Linked DNA regions of Homo sapiens: regions 1 and 2 are each reported to be linked to region 3. The links are microRNA targets in miRTarBase. Many come from high-throughput screens and were not tested one by one. Region 3 holds a microRNA gene; each other region holds the end of a gene's coding sequence.
Evidence for each region. Region 3 holds the annotated microRNA hsa-miR-4684-5p (CUCUCUACUGACUUGCAACAUA, at 3,599-3,620, shown strand). A microRNA usually pairs through its seed, bases 2 to 8, with sites in the 3' UTR of a target mRNA and lowers its output. Matches are read on the target gene's strand: a 7mer-m8 pairs with bases 2 to 8, a 7mer-A1 pairs with bases 2 to 7 and ends in A, and an 8mer does both.

Region 1 (7,129 bases), not on the chromosome of region 3:
GAAGGGTCCAATCAGCAGTCGGTTCTAGGGGTCTGGAGCCCAGGCTGCCCAGGAGGCACAGATCTGGGGCTCATCTAGCTGGTGGCTGAAGCTTCATGAGTGGATGGTCCATGGAGAGGACATGGAGGGAGAAAAGCCTGGGCTCCCTCCCCAGACCTGTCACAATGACAGATAAGCAGAGAAAAAGGAGCTGGCAGAGAGGCCACGGGGAGGCCAGGAGTGGCCACCAAGGTGGAGGGTGCAGCCCACACTGTCTGAGGCTGCTGAGACTCCATGAGGCATGAGGCTCAAGCCTGGCCAGCTTCTCAGGGCACATCTCCCTGTCCTCCCCGCAGCCTCTACTCAGTCTTCTCTCCCAACAGAATCCAGGGCTGCTGGGCAGACAGGCAGAACTCCCATTCCCCACGGCTCTGTGCAGTGGCTCACACCTGTAATCCCAGAGCTTTGGGAGGCCAATGCAGGAGGATTGCTTGAGGCCAAGAGTTCAAGACCAGCCTGGGCAACATAGGGAGATCCCGTCTCTACCAAACACATTAATTTTTTTTAAAAAAAGGAATTCTTCCTCCCTATTCCCACAGAGGTCCATGGCTCCCTGCATGTGGCTAGACTACACCCCAGAGTCAGGCTGACTCCTGCCTGGAGGCCCGAATGGGCCACAGTCTTTGAGGGGCTGTGGTGCTGCTACATAGCACTCAGGTCCTGCCCCTGGGCTGCGGGGCCTGAGAGTCACAGGAGGTCAGGCCTGCGCTGGAGGAGGGGAAGCTGCCCCCCACCAGCACATTCTCCCAAAGTGAGCCTCCCTCAGCCATCATTTTAAGATAGATGTTGACGGGAAGTGAAGTGTCTCTGTTGAAGAGACAGGAGAGGAGGGGGCATGAAGGTGAGGCTGGGAGCCCCACAGAGTCAGGGCGCCTTAGCTTTCGGCCTGGGCAGGCTCCCACGTTTAGAGCCTGGCTTTGTCCCATCTCTCCCCAGCCACAGCCTGGTGTATGTGTGCAAGCCGACCTTCGTGGGGAGCCGTGACCAAGATGGGGAGATCCTGCTGCCCAGAGAGGTCCCCGATGAGTATGAAGTTGGCAGCTTCATGGAGGAGGTGCGCCAGGAGCTGGAGGACCTGGAGAGGAGCCTGACTGAAGAGATGGCGCTGAGGGAGCCTGCGGCTGCCGCCGCTGCACTGCTGGGAGGGGAAGAGATTTAGATCTGGACCAGGCTGTGGGTAGATGTGCAATAGAAATAGCTAATTTATTTCCCCAGGTGTGTGCTTTAGGCGTGGGCTGACCAGGCTTCTTCCTACATCTTCTTCCCAGTAAGTTTCCCCTCTGGCTTGACAGCATGAGGTGTTGTGCATTTGTTCAGCTCCCCCAGGCTGTTCTCCAGGCTTCACAGTCTGGTGCTTGGGAGAGTCAGGCAGGGTTAAACTGCAGGAGCAGTTTGCCACCCCTGTCCAGATTATTGGCTGCTTTGCCTCTACCAGTTGGCAGACAGCCGTTTGTTCTACATGGCTTTGATAATTGTTTGAGGGGAGGAGATGGAAACAATGTGGAGTCTCCCTCTGATTGGTTTTGGGGAAATGTGGAGAAGAGTGCCCTGCTTTGCAAACATCAACCTGGCAAAAATGCAACAAATGAATTTTCCACGCAGTTCTTTCCATGGGCATAGGTAAGCTGTGCCTTCAGCTGTTGCAGATGAAATGTTCTGTTCACCCTGCATTACATGTGTTTATTCATCCAGCAGTGTTGCTCAGCTCCTACCTCTGTGCCAGGGCAGCATTTTCATATCCAAGATCAATTCCCTCTCTCAGCACAGCCTGGGGAGGGGGTCATTGTTCTCCTCGTCCATCAGGGATCTCAGAGGCTCAGAGACTGCAAGCTGCTTGCCCAAGTCACACAGCTAGTGAAGACCAGAGCAGTTTCATCTGGTTGTGACTCTAAGCTCAGTGCTCTCTCCACTACCCCACACCAGCCTTGGTGCCACCAAAAGTGCTCCCCAAAAGGAAGGAGAATGGGATTTTTCTTTTGAGGCATGCACATCTGGAATTAAGGTCAAACTAATTCTCACATCCCTCTAAAAGTAAACTACTGTTAGGAACAGCAGTGTTCTCACAGTGTGGGGCAGCCGTCCTTCTAATGAAGACAATGATATTGACACTGTCCCTCTTTGGCAGTTGCATTAGTAACTTTGAAAGGTATATGACTGAGCGTAGCATACAGGTTAACCTGCAGAAACAGTACTTAGGTAATTGTAGGGCGAGGATTATAAATGAAATTTGCAAAATCACTTAGCAGCAACTGAAGACAATTATCAACCACGTGGAGAAAATCAAACCGAGCAGGGCTGTGTGAAACATGGTTGTAATATGCGACTGCGAACACTGAACTCTACGCCACTCCACAAATGATGTTTTCAGGTGTCATGGACTGTTGCCACCATGTATTCATCCAGAGTTCTTAAAGTTTAAAGTTGCACATGATTGTATAAGCATGCTTTCTTTGAGTTTTAAATTATGTATAAACATAAGTTGCATTTAGAAATCAAGCATAAATCACTTCAACTGCTCTTCTGTAGTTCTTGGATTTCTTTTCCCTTTTGACTTTGAATAAATGTAAAATCCTTTCAGCCAGAAAAAGTAAAATAGAAACAACCTGTATTAAAAATCTTCCATAGAAGCAAATTTGCCACCCAACTGAAGCACACCTCTTTCAGCATCAAAATATTTTAGAAATCTTAACTATTTTTGGATGGGAATTTGTCTTAAAGAGTGTAAATGCTTCACGGCCTTCTGAAAGGACAAATGGAATATGTATGACTCTTTTTTTAGGGGAGCCTTCTTTAATCAAATGCAGTTCTGGGCCATAAGACAGTAAGATCCTCAAGGACCATAATATTAGAGCTACTATATTGAAGTCAGCTGCGTGGCAAGTGCCAGATTAGGCAGTCTACCTATATTCATTCATTTAATCTTCACTGAACTCCATGAGCATTTTCTTCATTTCACAGATGAACAAATGGAGGTGCAAAGAGATTGACAGAGTAGAAGTCAGACAAAAACAGCATCTAGTACAGTATGTCCAGGTTATAGTGATTATTTTAAGATCAAATAGGGAGCTGTTTTCTATTCAATGTCAGAAACCATCAGGACCACCCTACATTCTGGTTACTCAACAGATATCTACTGAGAGCCTCCTCAGAATCAGGTGCTGTGGTACGCTTTGGGGTGCCAAGCTGACCCAGATAGGGTCCCTACCTTGAAGGCATCCCAGTCTAATGAGGGAGACACAGCCAGAGCAAGCAATGACAAAACAAAGACAGTCAACCCGATGTGGGAACAGAGGTGTTACGGAAGCCTCAGTGGAGCACTTGGGGAGAGCTGGCATGGGAACTGGCTCTTGAAGATGATAGGAGTTTATCAGGAAGCCAGAGGGCACAGGAAAGGGCTTTCTGGGCCATGGGCAGAGGGAGGGAGGCACAAGGGTCAGGTGCCATGTAGGGGAAACTGCAAGTCATTTGCAGTGGCTGGAAGGCAAGGAAAGCTTGAGGAAGCATTTAGAGAAGAGGCTAAAAATTATGTCATCCAAAAAATGATTGAAAACATTGTGGTAAATGAGATAAAACTAGGTCCCCCATAGTTGTATATGTAGATATAGTAGGCTGCTCCATTTTGTCATGATAGCCACAAACTTGTAAGAACACGAGAGGCTTTGCAAAATACTTAGCTGAAGCCAGCATCTGAGTAGCATCTGAGTGTCTCCTTTACTCAGTCCTGAGTGAAATGTGGGAGGGGCTGGGTGGAGGTGGTGCTTGAATACCTTGCTGCTGCTCTCTCCCAAAGCCAGAGTTCCTGCCAAGCCATGGCAGATGCCGTCAGGTAAACTGCTCAACAGCTGTTCTCAGTCCCTCCAGCAGCTAGGGCTGGCCCCATGACCCAGGAAATGTAAGGGGAGGGCTCCCAGAGTTTCTGGAATTTTTTCCCAATTGACAAAAGGAGAGTGGCAAACAAGAATGGAGCTCCTGCCCTCCATCCACTTCCCCTGCCTTTGAGTATGGTGCTCAGGAAGCGACATTTGGCTCTGGGGCAGCCATCTGGTGATCATGTGATCAACAGGGCTGCATTCCTCTGGAGGCTCTGGGGAGAGTCCATTTCCTTGCTGTTTTTTAGCCTCTATAGGTCACTGGCATTCCTTGGCTCATGGGCCCCTTCATCTTCAAATCCTGCAATGACAGTTCTGTCCTTCTCAGGTGCCAGCTCTCTGGCTTTCTACAGGTGGGAAAGGTTCTCCACTTCTGGGGACCCATGTGATCAAATTGCGCCCACCTAGATAATCCAGAATAATCTTCCCACGTCAAGGTCCTTAACCTTAATTGCATCTGCAAAATCTCTTTTGCCCTGTCAGGTAAATAATCACAATCTTCCCACGTCAAGGTCCTTAACCTTAATTGCATCTGCAAAATCTCTTTTGCCCTGTCAGGTAAATAATCACAGGATACAGGGTTTAGGATGTGGCCCTACCACAGAAAGAGTCTTTGAGTCCTTGACATTGAGGAGGAAACCAATCCTGTTCTCCACCATCTCTGGACACCTTAAGTAAACCACCGATATTATTATTGATAAAGCTGGTGTTAGCTTTTCTGTTATTTGAAGCCAAAAAGCATTTCTGACACAGGAGCTATTTGCATGATGAACCATAGCCTGCAGGAGAACAAAGCCCAACTGGTTCTCTGGGCCTGTGGGGAGGGAGGATGAGGTTGAAGAGGGAAGGGAGGGGCCTGCTGTAGTGTGAGGGACAAAGACAGGAAGAGAAAAAAGGCATTAGGTATTCCTGTGGTCTGCACATCCTCTCCAGATACTCAAGAAATGCAATTCAACTATTTGGAGATTACTTTTTGATAGCTATGCTTGGTTTCTAAATGCAGCTAGGCCCCTGCACACAGGGCTTGCTGAAAGTGGCCACCTCAGCAGCAGCAGCACAATTGCCCTGTATAAAGATGACCAAGGGAGGGTGAAATCCCCTTTTGGGAGATTGTGGTGTTTGGAAAACAGATTCTTCCCCTCCCTGACACTCCGTTGAGGGAGGAGAGGTTAGATTTTATTCCCTTGGCTGAAACTTCTGAGGGGAACTTTTTGAGACACTCATGGAAGATCAAATTGAGGGTTGAAGACTTGGTAGGGACTAGTGCAGCATGGGATAGTGGTATTCACTGCAGAGAAGTGTCTGCCAGCAGGAGGCTGGCAAGACACTGTCAAATTTCATGAGGGAGCACCAATGCTGTTAGGAGTTGGGTCCTTTGCTGATAGGACCTGCAGGGCATCTACCTTCATGTCTACAAAAAAGTTACTAGTGACCAGGCACAAGGGGACAGTAACCTTACCAGCCTCATTGCTAAGAAGTGGTTAGCACATGTCTTCCCCCCGCTCTTCCTGGCCTCTTCCACCACCAGTCAAGCTGGTGCAGGAGTTGGCAGGGACAGCACATCTTGGAGGCACTATGGAGGTTCAGGGGAGCTTTGAATGAAACCACTGAACTTTAAGATAAGATTGTCTTAATAATGCAAAATGACTTAAAAGTCACAGGATTGCACTGAGCACTTGATAAGCCCACTGCCCAGTGGGTAACTGCATTTGACAAAACAATTGGCACAGTTATGAAAAAAATGTAAGCATTGAGTATTTTTATCTCCATAAATTATACTCTTCAAGCAGGTTACTTAAGCATTATAAAAGAGGCTGAAAACAGGTGGGGAGAGGGCAGGTGGGAAACATGGAAAGCAGAGGGAAGGGGAGCTTGGTGCCCACCTGTGAGGCAAGGTTTTAGGGTCCAATAACAATTTCTGACCTGGTGAGCTGACACTCAGTTGAGATCAATTCTCTTGTACAGGTGAGCTGGTGAGGAGGTGGAAAGGGGCAGTGCTGTGATGGGGAAGGGGCAGAGCATTCCTCTCAACTCTCTTTTGCCCTCCTAGCTTGACCTACTGATGGCTGCACTCTTTTCTAAATAGTAACACATGCTCCAATGCATGCTTGAGTTTGTGCAGTATTCTTGTTTCTGAAAGTCAAGTTGTGACAATTAATGCTGTATCTAACCAAATGATCACAGCCTCCCTCTTCCCCATGGGAACTACAATCAAGAAGCATCTTCCAATTTCATGTACACTAAACCTAGGTGGCCACAAGCTTCATTTGGGCCATGAACTCCTTTGAAACCCTCATAAAAACTGTCCTACTATCTCCCTGGTAAATCGCACATACACAGAGTTTTGCCTTTCAGGACATATGGCCTTATAAGATTTTGACTACTAGTGACCAAAATGTTGATGTTTTTCAAAAATTACACAGAATTGTTAAGATGGAATAGTTTTATTCAGCAAACAAAAAACTTGCTAATTCAGAGTATCCTCTAGTCCACGTAATGTGGTTTAGACTACATTTGCAAAATTAGGGCCTTGACGCTGAACAAAATAAAATCCAGAGGAAGAACTACAGTATCCAATCAAAAAGGAAGTACTAGCAAATGAACCAGAATAAAAGACTTTATTGTATTCCATACATTCACAGGTCACTTCCAGATTTAGTAACAACACTGCAATGCTATGATGCTGTGCGGTCATTTAGCTTAAACCACAGTGTAAGTTGGTAGCTCTCTCCTGCTCTCTTGGCCTCTAGATGTATCACAATACAATTCCTAACTGTGGCCTGGCAACCAATGCTTATTTCATTGGATTATTTTCTGACTGGGACATGAGTTCATCGCATCTTCCCAGAATTTTAAAGTACCTTCCCTTACATTATAAGAGATGACCAAACACTCTAGTGTGAAGGCTGCTTCACACACTGTTCTTATCTATCATGATTGCTCTTCCTTACATACACGTCCCGTACAGATCAGCTACACACGGCATGGTCCTGAAACCACAGCTTTTGTTTCTTTGGCCAGAATGCACCCCTCACCTTGAGTGCCCGCCTTAGAAACACAGGTACTTGGTTCTCACAGGGTGTGCATGGTTGACACAAGTTCATCTGCCCCACGGTAAAAGCTCTTCAAAACCTTTGCATGACTTGTGGGGAGCAGGGTCACAATTTGTTGCATGTGACCTGCCTCAGCCTCAAAAGATAAGAGATCATGAGGCTCCACCG
Region 2 (7,129 bases), not on the chromosome of region 3:
AGATCACACCACTGTACTCCAGCCTGGGCAACAGAGTGAGACTGTGTCTTAAAAAAAAGTCAAAGAAATACGTGCCAAACAAAACATTCATAGAACCATTATGTTAAAACTACAAAATGTTGATGAAAGAAATCAAAGACACCAAATACAGACACATATACAATATACATTTATTGGAAGACTCCACATAAAACAATATGAAAACAATATGAAATTATACCAAATTGACACATAGGGTTAACACATTTCCTAATCAGGGCATTCTGCAGATACTAACAAGGTTATCCAATTATGTAGAAAGGCAATGAAACAAAAAAAAGCCAAACCCCAAAATCTAAAATAGCTAAAACATCGGAATAACAACAGAAAGACTGGAATCACTTCATGTGATTTTAAGTCTTCTAACATAGTAAAAGCATTCTTTTCCTTTCTCGTATTTACAGGAATCCTAGTTCGTACTTCCCATTGTCTTGTGCGCATACTAATGTCACAACATTTTCTTTCCAAACAACAGCCATATTTATGTAGCCCGTAAATTTTCACTCAAGTAACACATGGAAGAAACGTATTAGACATGGAACCTGGACTGCAATTTATAAAAGATTTTTAATGTAACTCATATAAAGAAGCACAAAGTAAATTTTTTTTGACACAGTGTCTCCCTCTGTCATCCAGGCCGGAGTGCAGTGGTACAATCAAGGACGACAGCAGCCTCAGCCTTCTGGCATCAAACGATCCTCCTGCTGCAGTGCCCCTAAGTAGTTGGGACCACAAGTGTACATGACCACACCCGGCTATTTTTAAAATTTTTTTGTAGACATAAGCTCTTGCTATGTTGCCCAGGCTGGTCTTGAACTTCTGGGCTCAAGTGATTTCTCCCACCTTGGCCTCCCGAAGTGCTGAGATTACAGGTGAGCCACCCCCACTCAGCCTGAAAAAATTGCTTCATACCATAATCTGACAATGACATTTCCACAACTTTTGGCAAAATGCTCTTCTAGCAAAATCATATTTATTGTATAATAAATATAATTATATAATCAATAAACAATAAACAAATCATGTTGATTTTATAATAAACACTTTTGTACAATAATTTTCATTGAACTAGGATAAAACGTATCTCAGGCAACTTTTGTGGGGAAAAGAAAGAGAGATCGGATTGTTTCTGTGTAGAAAGAAGTAGACACAGGAGACTCCATTTTGTTCTGTACTAAGAAAAATTCTTCTGCCTTGAGATGCTGTTAATCTATGACCTTACCCCCAATCCCGTGCTCTCTGAAACATGTGCTGTGTCCACTCAGGGTTAAATGGATTAAGGGCTGTGCAAGATGTGCTTTGTTAAACAGATGCTTGAAGGCAGCATGCTCCTTAAGAGTCATCACCACTCCCTAATCTCAAGTACCCAGGGACACAAACACTGCGGAAGGCCGCAGGGACCTCTGCCTAGGAAAGCCAGGTATTGTCCAAGGTTTCTCCCCATGTGATAGTCTGAAATATGGCCTCGTGGGAAGGGAAAGACCTGACCGTCCCCCAGCCCGACACCCGTAAAGGGTCTGTGCTGAGGAGGATTAGTAAAAGAGGAAGGAATGCCTCTTTGCAGTTGAGACAAGAGGAAGGCATCTGTCTCCCGCCCGTCCCTGGGCAATGGAATGTCTCGGTATAAATCCCGATTGTATATTCCATCTACTGAGATAGGGGAAAACCGCCTTAGGGCTGGAGGTGGCACATGCGGGCAGCAATACTGCTCTGTAAGGCATTGAGATGTTTATGTGTATGCATATCTAAAGCACAGCACTTGATTCTTTACCTTGTCTATGATGCAGAGACCTTTGTTCACGTGTTTACCTGCTGACCTTCTCTCCACTATTATCCTATGACCCTGCCACATCCCCCTCTCTGAGAAACACCCAAAAATGATCAATAAATACTAAGGGAACTCAGAGGCTGGCGGGATCCTCCATATGGTGAACACTGGTCCCCTGGGGCCCCCTTATTTCTTTCTCTATACTTTGTCTCTGTGTCTTTTTCTTTTCCAAGTCTCTCGTTCCACCTAACAAGAAACACCCACAGGTGTGGAGGGGCAACCCACCCCTTCACCTTTACTAGACACTTTACTAAACAGTAATTCACAAGCATTTTCAACAATCATAGGTGCAGTGAAACCTACACGTCCATCCGAGAGGAATGTAACCAGCTATCACCATGAAGAAAACTGGGGTTTTTCCTAACCAAGAAGTCAGGAGTTTCAAGAAGAAGTATTTAGTCTTGTACTAAAGAGTTAGACTACATTTTGTGATGTCTGAATACTAACAGCTTTTACACCTCTGCATTCCTTCTTCCTATGAAAGGAGGTAGTTAACTTGCCTTAGGTAGATAGCAAGAAAAGGGTCTCTGGAGAGTCCCTGGCCCATGGGTCAGTGCCTCATCCCCACCTAACAGAAAAAGCAGCCTGGGAAAAAATTCAAGGTGCAGGGACCGATAAGGGAACTAGCACAAGGTGTTATGCCTACGGCTGCACAGATGGAAAAGGCCCATTTGGATAAAAACTTGCACAGACCTCCATCTCACTCAGATAAGGGAGCAGGCCTGGCACAGAAATGCCTTTTGCCTTTGTAGAGTCAGTGGGCTCCCAGGCAAAAGTTTCTTCTCCCTTTGTGGACATGGGCACAGTGGGCTCCAATAAGTTCAGGTGCTCCAATAAGTTCAGGTTCCTTTATTGGACTGTAAGTCTGGCTTCTATGAATCATCACTTCAGCCCCTAATTGGTCCTGGGCCAAGCTTTCACTTCAGCTTCTAATAGGTCCCGGGCCAAGCTGAGGCATGCATTCTCCAAGACAGCCCGCAGACTAAGCACATTCCTTCCCCTTTCCAGTCCATAAAAACCCCAATACGGACCTCATAGTGAGTACTCCTGTTCAGGAGCCCCTCTCTGCTGGCAGACAGCTTTCTCCTCTTGCTTATTAAACTTTCGCTCCAAACTCACTTTTATGTCCACACTCCTTTTCTTGGAGGTAGGACAAAGAACCCAAAGTGTTATCTCAAATGAGAGACTGTTACATCTTGGTGCATTGCTGAGACTACATTATGATGCCCATCTGGTCAACTGATAATAAAGCCTGAGTGCTCCCTCATTTGGCACCAGGTATTAGTTCAAACCACAAGTAAGTACCCACACCCCAGCCCGACGCTTCAACAATCATAACACCCAAAGTAGTCATCTATCCCAGTTTTCTCATGACATTTTTGGACCAACTGGGGAAGTCTAACCTGCTTTCCTCAGAAAGTCTTATTATGTAATAAACATTCTCAGACCCCTTCAGTACATAGCATCATCAGTCTCAATACCCAAGCCAAATCTTAGGTGGACGTCAAACAAGTTCTAGTGGAGGCCAGGTACATGGCTCATGCCTGTAATCCTAGCACTTTGGGAAGCTGAGGTGGGTGGGTCATTTGAGCCCAAGAGTTGGAGACCAGCTGGGCAACACTGTGACCAAAAAACACCCCAAAATTAGCTGGGTGTGGTGGTGTGCGCCTGTAGTCACAGCTATTCATGAGGCTAAAGTGGGAGGATCACTTGAGCCGGGGAGGTTGAGGCTGCAGTGAGCCCTAACTGTGCCACTGCACTCCAGCCTGTGCAACAAAGACCCTGTCTCAAATTTAAAAAAAAAAAAACTTTTTTTGTAAGGTTCTAGTGGAGTAGGCAAAAGTTCAAATTACCACAAAGGTTGTGGGGGTAAATATGTGAAGTTCCTTGTTAAAATACCAAAGCAAAACACAATTCCATTCTGTGTGTCCACCCTTACGAGGAAATTTATGAACATTAGTAATTTCAAATTATGTCACTGAGCACAAGGACAAAAAAAGAGATTGTGTTACACTATTTTTAACCTTATCCTCACACTTTTATCTCATAATATTTGTCATATTTGTATTTTTGCTTCATAAAAATGAAAGTGTGGGCCAGGCACAGTGGCTCAAGCCTATAATCCCAGCACTTTGGGAGGCCAAGGTGGGTGGATCGCCTGAGGTTGGGTGTTTGAGACCAGCCTGGCCAACATGGTGAAACCCTGTCTCTACTAAAAATACAAAAAAATTAGCCAGGACTGGTGGCAGATGCCTGTAATCTCAGCTACTCGGGAGGCTGAGGCAGAAGAATTGCTCGAACCCAGGAGGTGGAGGTTGCAGTGAGTCAAGATCGCGCCATTGCACTCCAGCCTGGGTGACAGAGCAAGACTCTCAAAAAAAAAAAAAAAAAAAAAAAAAGAGAGAATGTGTGCCATGGGTCTAATTTAGCACACAAGAAAAAGGCACATAGAAATATAATGATACACTAAACATTTGCCAAGGGCTATAAACACATTTGAGGGTATAGGATGCTGGAGTTGCACTGCTTTGGGACTTTCACTGTACCCACAGAAGCATTCTAGGGCAGAGCACAGATACAATAATTCAAGTACTAAGTATGATTACTCATATTCACACTTACCTAAGGATATGTAACCAAAGGACATGTTTCATTTCACAACCAGAAAACTTGCTCTGGATGCTCCAATCTTAAAATCCCAATGGTGCATTACTGTGTGCTACAGAGTATCCATCCTCCTGAGGTGGGATGAAATTATGACGGTAGAAAACACGATTCATTCATACTTAGGAAAAATGAAACTTTATTACTACAAACATGAGAGCTGCATACATTCTAAATCAAATGGTTGCAACTTATAATACCAAGAATTAAATGTGAATCCTACTTAAGAATATGCTGAGCTGGCCAGGTGTGGTGGCTCACGCCTGTAATCCTAGCACTTTCAGGCTGAGGCAGATGGATCGCCTGAGGTCAGGAGTTTGAGACCAGTGTGGCCAACGTGGTGAAACCCCATCTCTACTAAAAATACAAAAATTAGCTGGGTATGGTGGTACACGCCTGTAATCCCAGCTACTTGGGAGGCTGAGGCAGGAGAATTGCTTGAACCCGGGAGGCGGAGGTTGCAGTGAGCCGAGATCGCGCCACCGCACTACAGCCTGGGTGACAAGGGCGAAACTCTGTCTCATCTAAAAAAAGAATATGCTGATCCGGTCATTTTGATTAAACTCTCAACTGTGATATAACTGTTCTCTATTCCATTTCAAAAATGAGGCTGGGCACCATGGTTCATGCCTGTAATCCCAGCACTTTGGGAGGCTGAGGTGAACATATCACTTGAGGTCAGGAGTTGGAGACCTGCCTGGCCAACATGGTAAACACTGTCTCTACTAAAAATACAAAAATGAACTGGGTGTGGTGGCGCACGTCTGTAGTCTCAGCTACTTAGGAGGCTAAGGCAGAAGGACTGCTTGAGCCCAGGAGGCGGAGGGTGCAGTGAGCCAAGAACACACCACTACACTCCAGCCTGGGCAACAGAGTGAGACTCTATCTCCAAAAAAAAAAAAGTCTACTTCTCATCAGTCTTTGCTAAACAGCAGGTACTGCTGTTCAATGGAGAAGGTGGCTACCTTTTTCCTTGCATTATTTCTACCATATAATCAGACACTAGCAACCTATTACTCTCTTCCCACTAATAACCTATGCCTTAAGATTACAGCATACTCTATTTCATGGTCAGTTGGTGGACACTGAAGCTCTGTGCACTTATGTCAGGAGAAAGTGTGCTAACTGCAACAGTATGATGACGGTCATCAGTTTTATGTTACTCTGCCCACCTCCATGCTCTCTAAATCAGACAATATTTAATCTCAAAAGGCAATGTCCTTCATCAGGAAATTGGATAGAAATAATCCTCAGCTAATGAAGTCAGCCCTGTCATCCTACTGATTCTTTCCCAGGGACCACAGTGAATGGCCTGTATGGAAGGCACATGAAAAGATTTCGAAGTCACAAAGAGTAAAGTAGCCTTTTCTATAAGCCCCAAATAATTGAATGCTTTATAGCCTGAATAAAACTGGTCATTTACAAGCCGTTGCACCTTTGATATACATCAGGTCATGAGATTCAACATATTTTGACTTAGCATTATTCTGCATCATGCAATATCATAGATTAGTATCAGAGAACCAGAGACAGAGTTACTTCTTGTGTAAATCCTATCGTGTTCTATAGCAATGGTCCTTGAATAATAGCCCAAGTACACACAATTCATCTGTGTGCTTTCATCCTCCACAGTGATGTGGTGATGTCCAGTGATTTGGCAGGCCTTGATAAAGCCTGTGTCACATACATTTCATTTATATGATTTCCACTTAGTATGGACTCACTGATGTTGATTAATGCTAGAACTCATGATGATGGTTTTGCCATACAGTTTGTAGGGACTCTCATGAATGAACTCTCTGATGCTGTGCAAGGTCAGAATTGTGACTGAAGACCTTACTGCACAGGGTGCATTTGTAAGGTTTCTCTCCAATGTGAATTCTATGGTGATTGGTGAGGGAAGACTTCTGAGTGAAGATCTTGCCACATTCTTTACACTCATGAGATTTCTTTTCAGTATGGATTGCAAGATGGGCAGTAAGGCCTGAACACCCTCGAAATGCTTTGCCACATTTACTACATCTGTAAGGCCTCTCTCCAGTATGAATTATTTGATGTCTTGTAAGGTATGATGCTTGATTAAAGACCTTGCCACATTGATTACATTTGTAAGGCTTTTCTCCTGTATGAATTTTCTGATGGCATACCAGGTTTGAACTGCGACTGAAGACCTTGCCACATCTGTTACATTTGTAAGGCTTCTCTCCAGTATGAATTCTATGATGACTGGTTAGAGAAGACTTGTACCTGAAGACTTTGCCACATTCTTTACATTCATAAGGTTTCTCTCCACTATGGATTAGAAAATGGGCAGTAAGGTCTGAAAACTCTCTAAACGCTGTGCCACATTTATTACATTTGTAAGGCTTCTCATCAGTATGAGTTTTTCGATGTCGTATAAGGTCTGATTTCTGACTAAAGATCTTGCCACACTGACTGCATCCATAAGGTCTCTCTCTAGTATGAATTCTCTGATGAGAGGTCAGGAAACACTTGCGCCCAAAGACCTTGTCACATTCTTTACATTTGTAAGGTTTCCTTCCAGTGTGAATTAACTGATGGGTTATGAGGCTGGAACGCACTGAAAATGCTTTGCCA
Region 3 (7,000 bases):
ATTAAATGCTGGTCTCAACCCCTCTAAGGTCCTTCCCTCAATGATGGCGACGTGGCCCCCTTTTTGGCATTTAATTTGTCCAGGCACCAGATCAGCCTTCAGTGTCTCCCCTAACCCACCCCACAAGCTCCCAACTTCCCCCAGACTCGGGATGGTAACCCCCCAAGTGTGGACAGACTCAGACTCCATCCCTGCCTCTTTCTCCAGAGCCCCATCAGGGGAAAATACTCAGATTCCTAGTCCAGAGGGACTGTCATCTGGGGTCCCTAAGCCTCCTAAGTCCTGGGGATCTTTGTTCACCCTGAAATTGTCATAGAACATTGGATGGGCCCCCTCCCTCCTGTGGGATTGTCCTAGGCCCTACTTCCTCAAGGCTCTTCATCAGCGCCAAAGTGGGGACAGGTTCTTTTTTTTTTTCGAGATGGAGTCTCACTTTGTCACCCAGGCTGGAGCACAGTGGTGCCATCTCGGTTCACTGTAACCTCCGCCTCCCGGGTTCAAGCCATCTTCCCACCTCAGCCTCCGGAGTAGCTGGGACTACAGGCATGTGCCACTACACCCGGCTAATTTTTTTGCATTTTTAGTGGAGACGGGGCGGGGGTTCACCATGTTGACCAGGCTGGTCTCGAACTCCTGACCTCAAGTGACCCACCCACCTTGACCTCCCAAAGTGCTGGGATTACAGGCCTGAGCCACTGTGCCCTGCCTGGGACAGATTCTATGGGCCAGTTTGCTGGGCATTCAGCCCGTGGTAGCCTCTGGTCAACTCTGCCTGCCCAGAGCTCACCTGTGAGTTTAGACTGGAGACTGGACCTCTGCACATAGAAAGGCCCCTAACAGGAAGGGGCAGATGGAGCCTGCTGGTGACAGGATGCCTGGGCTGGGCAAGGCAGGGGACCCATGCTCCCACTGAGGGTGGCGGAGATGCAGAGCACGGTGGGCCTCCTGACGGGAGGATCTTCCACACCTCCGACCAAGGACCCGTCTCCTGACCTGGCACCTGCATGCCTGACTTAGCTGGAGATCTGGGAGATGGGGAACAAGGTTGGGGAGTCTGTATTTTTAACATACTCTCCAGGTCTTTCCATTAGGCAGGCAAATTTGCCCCCCAGCGGCCTATGATAAAACACAGGACTCCTGGGAAAGAGGAAGAGAAACCTCAGCAGGAAACTGGAAAAGACTGAAATGAAGTGAAATCAATCAGAGTTAGCGCCCACCAGCCCTGGCTGCCGCTGGCTCGTGCATAAAAAGAGGGTTAGCTGGGGGAAGGCAGGGAAGGAAAGAATGTTTGCACAGCTCCCAGGGGTGGGGCAGCAGGCCAGGCAGTTGTTGATTGTGGCAGCACCTGGAGGCTCCCTGATTGGGATCAGCTCAGGCCTTCTGATAAGGCTGCCTTGAAAGCATTTTAGGGCCTTTTAAAGCAGCTGCCTTCCGGAGGGTGCAGGAGGGGGACACCTGTCTCCCCAGTACCCCCGTGTCATCTGGGGGCTTGCCTAGGACACCCTCACTAGGTGAGCTTCCTGGAGCCATCTGCCCCCCTGCTGCAGCCCCTGTGGGGTGGGAGTGTCCTCAGAAGAGGGGACCTTGCCTGCTGTGTGGCCTTGACCAAGTGATCCACTCTCTGAGCCTCAGCTTCCTCATCTGGAAACTGGAGAATACCGCGCATGTGTCAGAGGCTCATGGCGAGGATTCAGTGAGATGCTGTGTACCATGACTGGCAGAACTGCCTGGCACTCAGCTGTGTCCATTCTTTATTAGTTTCCGTAACCATTAAATGTCAGCAGCACCCTCGTGCCCCTGGCCAGAATGACTTGTCCCTTTCTCTGAAGTCCTACAGAGGCTTTGCTTAGCCCTGATCACTTTCTCTCCTGTTCTATAAACAGCAGAGCCTGGGGGTTACAGGAAATGTGTGTGGAGTCAGACTGCTCCGTACTGTGTGTCCTCTGGCTTGTGTTTTCACCTCTCTGAGCCTTGGTTTCCTCATCTTTCAAATGGGGGTAATCATTGTTCCTAGCTCTTGAGATGGTTGTGAGCAATGGATGTGTTAATCTGAGGAAGACTAAGCTGAGTGTGTGCCTCAGGTGTGCTAAGCTTGCAATAAATGTGAACGGTTGCTATCCTTGCTTTCTACCAATGGGAAGCTCAATTCACAGTAGGGGAACAGGGGGCCAGTGTACCAGGTTTTTCATCTCCAGCTCTCCCCCACCCACTGTGTTCTGAGCCTTACAGGGCAAGGGTCTGACTGGCTTGCCAAGTAGCTGAGAGGCCCCTCCAGCCTGCCCACTCAGGGTACCATCCAGGTTTTCTCAAAGGCCCCCTCCCCACTCCAATTCAGCCTCCCTAATCTGGGAAAGGGGTAGACTCCTTCATGGCTGTACCCTCCTTCTTTGCCCAGTGCCTGCCAGGCACCACCTTCCCTGCCATGATCATGGGAATGGCTGTCAATTCTTTTTTTTTTTTTTTTTTTTTTTGAGACAGAGTATTGCTCTTGTTGCCCAGGCTGGACTGCAGTGGTGCAATCTCGGCTCACTGCAACCTCTGCCTCCCGGGTTCAAGAGATTTTCCTGCCTCAGCCTCCCTGAGTAGCTGGGATTACAGATGCCTGCCACCATGCCCGGCTAATTTTTTGTATATTTTAGTAGAGATGGGGTTTCACTATGTTGGTCAGGCTGGTCTCGAACTCTGACCTCAGGCGATCCACCTGCCTCGGCCTCCCAAAGTGCTGGGATTACAGGTGTGAGCCACCGCGCCCAGCAGCTGTCAATTCTTGTGCCAGACATTGTACTAACAGCATTATGTGTGTTGCCTTGTGCAGTTGCCCCAAGAGCCCCACAGGTCGTTGTATTATTGTGCCCATTTTACAGATGAGAAAACCAAAGCTCTGAGAGGAGTGACTGGCCCAAGGACACCTAGGGAGTGGTGAGGCAGCGATTGAAACCCAAGTCTGGTGACTCCAGAGCTCATGCTCTTCTCCACTTCTAGAATGTGCCTCCCTGCTCAGAGGAAAGGCTTGGCTCTGATGAGGGTCTCTAAGGCAGCTGTCCAGCTTCCAGCTCCATCAACATCCTGAGATAATGCAATGGGAGGGTTCTACAACTCACAAACCTGCCATAAAAATGCAATCTCTGTGATAATGGTCAGAATAATGTTGTTCTAACTTAGACAAATCGGGTGTTAACTCATTATGTTGTAAGGGGCGCCTCCACAGAGAATGGAGACTACGAAACAGTCACAGGGCCATTTGCAGCTTGTACTTCCAAATACAATAGCTCATCAGGCCTTCACAGCCATCCTGAAAGGGGCAGGAGCCACGGGGCCCACTTTAGAGATGAGGAAACTGAGGTCTGGGAGATAATATGACTCGCCCAAAGCCAGCAGCGGGACCAAGCTTGAAGCCCAGGGCCAATCTTAATAGCTCATCTATCCAGTTCAAATTCTTAGCCAACATTTGAAAATCAAGAGATTTTACAGAAAAGTCCTGTTTCTGGCGTTTCTGAAAAGTCAGACAATCTGGTTTCACAGGGCCCACATTCCCACATGGCCACAGTTGGCTGGAGTGACTGCCTCTTAAGACAGAATGTGTGAGCACCAGGGGTACCTCTCTACTGACTTGCAACATACATTTGTCTTGGTGTGTTGCAAGTCGGTGGAGACGTACCCTTGGTGCTCAACCCCTGTAAGGGCTTGAGTTTGCCTCCTGGATCTGCCCCTGTTACCCTGTGTGACCTGGAGTCAATTGCATGGCTTCCCGAGCCTCAGCTCTCTCTTCTATAAAATGACAGGGGTGAGACTCAGTGATTTTGGAGGCCTCTTCCAGCTCCAGGATTCAGTGCCCATTGCCAGGGTTCAGGGGTTCAGGCAAGGGAAGGGAGAGCTACAAAAAGTACAGGACTCCACTCCTGAAAAGCATATCACTTATCTTTAGCAAGCCACCACAAAACCTACTGGCTTAAAACAATAATGATTTCTTAGTTGTCCTGATTCAGTGGATTGGCTGGGCTCAGCTGGGTGCTTATTCTGTTCCCCGGGTTGTCAGTTGGGATCACTCAGGAGGCTGCACTCAGCTAGGTTGGGCTGGAAATTCCATCGTGGCTTCACATACATCTTTGAGGCCCTCATAGAGAAGGCTGGAAGGCTGGTCCCCCTACGCTCCTCGCTATCTCCCATCCTTTGCTAGTCTAGACTGCGCCTCTATCCATGGCAATTAGCTCCCAAGATGGTGAAATGGAAACTGCAAGGCTTCTTAAGGGCTGGGCTCTAATGTCACAAAGTGTCACCCCTGCAGCCTTCTGTGGTGGTCAAAGCCAGTCACAACACCAGCTCAGATTCATCCCAGGCTTCCTCATCAGGTTCAAGGAAAAGGAAAATATACTGGGCTTGATTTTTTTGTTTTATCCTTGAAGAGAAGTCCCATTTCTTGCTCAGCTGTTCAGCATGGAAAATTTAATGGTGGGTTATCCAGCGTCCCACTCAACATGTCCTGACCCACTGAATCAGGTGACACTCAGAGTTCAGTGCCCGCCCCTGCACCCTGTTGTTGTCCATGTTTCTTGGGCCAACCTGTGGTCCAAACTTGAATCTAGACGCCCCCTTACTGGGAGGAGTGGCTTCGTGTTTAGTAGGGGGAGGAATTGTTGGCAGCCATATTTGGAGACAGCCTCTCACAGGTAGTTTATCGTCCAGTCCAGGGATGGCGGTGGGGAGGCAACAGGAAGCCAGAAATCTCATTCCCCCCCCCCCCCGCCCCAGCACTTACCCCCGAATTGTCTTCAGTGTTATCTGCCTCTTCTGAGAAGGCAGGGACTTTCCACTTCACTATGTACAGCACAAGGCTTGGCTCATGATAGATATTAGATAGATGTTTGTGCAATAAACGAACCTAAAATTCATGAAAAATGGCAGCCTGGAGTTGTAGATATTCAAGACCTAGTATGAGGTGTGAGGCCAGAGAAAGGGGCCTTGGGCTGGTGGGATTGAACTGAAAAGATGGGTCCCTGGTGCTCCTGTGGCCTGGGGCAGGTCACTTCACCCCTCTAGGCCTCATTTTCCTTATCAGCGAACTGGGCATCATAATTTCAGGCACTACAGAAGGCTGTGCCGAGGAGTAACTGTGTTCTTCATTCTACTATGAAAGACCGGGTAAGGGGGTGACTGGTTGTCACTCCCACCTTGGCCAGAGGTCATCGCAGGAGTGGGGAAGCATTAGAGGAAAAGAAAAAATTCTAAAGGCATGGGCCAGTTATTGTCAAATTAAGTTTGGACCACAGGCTGGCCCCAGAGCACATGGAAATGTGTACAAACAGTGAAGTGAGTGGGTGGGACCACTGAGCTCTGAGCGTTGCTTCCAAAGACAGTTGAGGGGGACCTGGGCAACACATAGTCAAAGTTGACGCATTAAACCATTGAGCAAGAAATTGGCCTTCTGTTTGCTGGCAGACCAGGAAATCTGGCCTAACGTAATACCGGGAATAAATCACAAGAGTCTTGATCAGAGACTCCAGACTTGTGAGCTGGCCTGCGTTGTGAATGAGTGAGGTGACTTGACTGTTGGAAGTATAATAGTGCCCCCAGTAAGAGCGCATGTCCAGTCTAAAAAAGGCAGGTGCTACCCACTCCTGACCATGTTGTCACACAGGAATCTGTGTCCGGTTTTGCCACATCTTCTGATTTGCAAAGTTCTTTTTTTTCCTCTCTCTTTTTTCTTAGACAGGGTCTCACTCTGTCTCATAGGCTGGAGTGCAGTGACGCAATCGCAGCTCACTTAGCCTTGACCTCCTGGGCTCAAGCAATTCTCTCACCTCAGCCTCCCAAGTAGCTGGATCCATAGGCACCTGCCACCGCATCCAGCATTTTTTTTTTTTTTGTAGAGACAGAGTCTTTCACCATGTTGCCCAGGCTGGTCTTGAACTTGTGAACTCAAGCAGTCCTCCTTCTTCAGCCTCCCAAAGTGCTGGGATTACAGACATAAGCCATTGCGCCCAGCCTGATTTGCAAAGTTCTGATGCTTATGGGAAAACTGGTTTTTGTTTTGTTTTGTTTTGAGTCTCGCTCTGTTGCCTAAGCTGGAGTGCGGTGACACTATCTTGGCTCACTGCAACCTCTGCCTCCCAGGTTCAAGCAATTCTTGGGCCTCAGCCTCCTGAGTAGCTGGAACTACAATCATGTGCCACCACGCCTGGCTAATTTTTGTATTTTGAGTAAAGACAGGCACCTACCACCATGCCCAGCATTTTTTTTTTCTTTTTGGTAGAGACGGAGTCTTGCCATGTTGGCCAGGCTGGTCTCAAACTCCTGGCCTCAAGTGATCCACCTGCCTCAGCTTCCCAAATTGTTGGGATTACAGACGTGAGCCACCATGCCTGGTCTGAAAACTGGTTTTTGAATGTTTACTCATTTTATTCTAAAATACAGTTCTGGCCAAACCAAACCATGTTTGCTGGCTGGATTTGGCTCACTGGCTGGCAGTTTACAACCTTAGGTATTTGGGGTAAAGAAATAGCAAGGGTATTGTTAGCACCATTGTACAAATGGGGAAGTTGAGGTTCAATGACTTACTCAAGGTTACATAGCTGTTAGGCACTGGGAGGTGTTAAAACATGGCTCCTCACCTTGAAATGGGGAGTCTCTTTCCCTGTAACTTCCCTGCATGATCCCTGTTTTCCACGCTCCAGAACAATCCAGGAACGTAAGAGCCATCTTGCAGGCATCTGCCATGTTTGAAGGCAGAAAGCATGTCTTCCCTAGGTTTCTTCTTGAGGGAGGTAGAGTTGGCAGAATGAATGAAAAGCAGCGTGGTCTTAGACTAGAACCATGCTACGTTGGACCTCTGGCTCTGACACTTAACAGTGTTACCTTGGCCCTCTTAGCTCTTTGAGCCTCAGCTTCTTGAACTATACAATGAGGTTAGACAAGGCGTCCTGGAAGAGGCGACTTCTAAGATGATTCTTAAGGAAGAGCCAGGTGAAGAAGCAGCAAGGCAGCCATTCCAGGCAACAGGAAC

Region 1: miRTarBase lists DKK3 as a target of hsa-miR-4684-5p. The part of its 3' UTR that is shown has no 7-base or 8-base seed match.
Region 2: miRTarBase lists ZNF528 as a target of hsa-miR-4684-5p. Seed matches in the 3' UTR shown: 7mer-m8 at 5,251-5,257, 7mer-A1 at 5,116-5,122 and 7mer-m8 at 4,883-4,889.

The regions. Positions count from the first base shown.
Region 1 is chr11:11,958,533-11,965,661 of GRCh38, reverse strand. DKK3 (dickkopf Wnt signaling pathway inhibitor 3) reads left to right here. Exons shown (of 7, transcript NM_001018057.2): 7 at 976-2,626. The coding sequence ends at 1,198. USP47 (ubiquitin specific peptidase 47) reads right to left here. Exons shown (of 28, transcript NM_001282659.2): 28 at 3,775-7,129. Among named protein-coding and RNA genes, the nearest start is that of DKK3, 47 kb to the left of the region's middle.
Region 2 is chr19:52,415,926-52,423,054 of GRCh38, reverse strand. It overlaps ZNF528 (zinc finger protein 528), which reads right to left. Exons shown (of 7, transcript NM_032423.3): 7 at 4,654-7,129. The coding sequence ends at 6,316. Among named protein-coding and RNA genes, the nearest start is that of ZNF534, 9.7 kb to the left of the region's middle. RefSeq lists enhancers at 1,008-1,773, 1,774-2,539.
Region 3 is chr1:22,715,932-22,722,931 of GRCh38, forward strand. MIR4684 (microRNA 4684) reads left to right here and starts at 3,586; the gene lies at 3,586-3,667. All of the region lies in intron 1 of EPHB2 (EPH receptor B2), which reads left to right. RefSeq lists an enhancer at 1,233-1,922.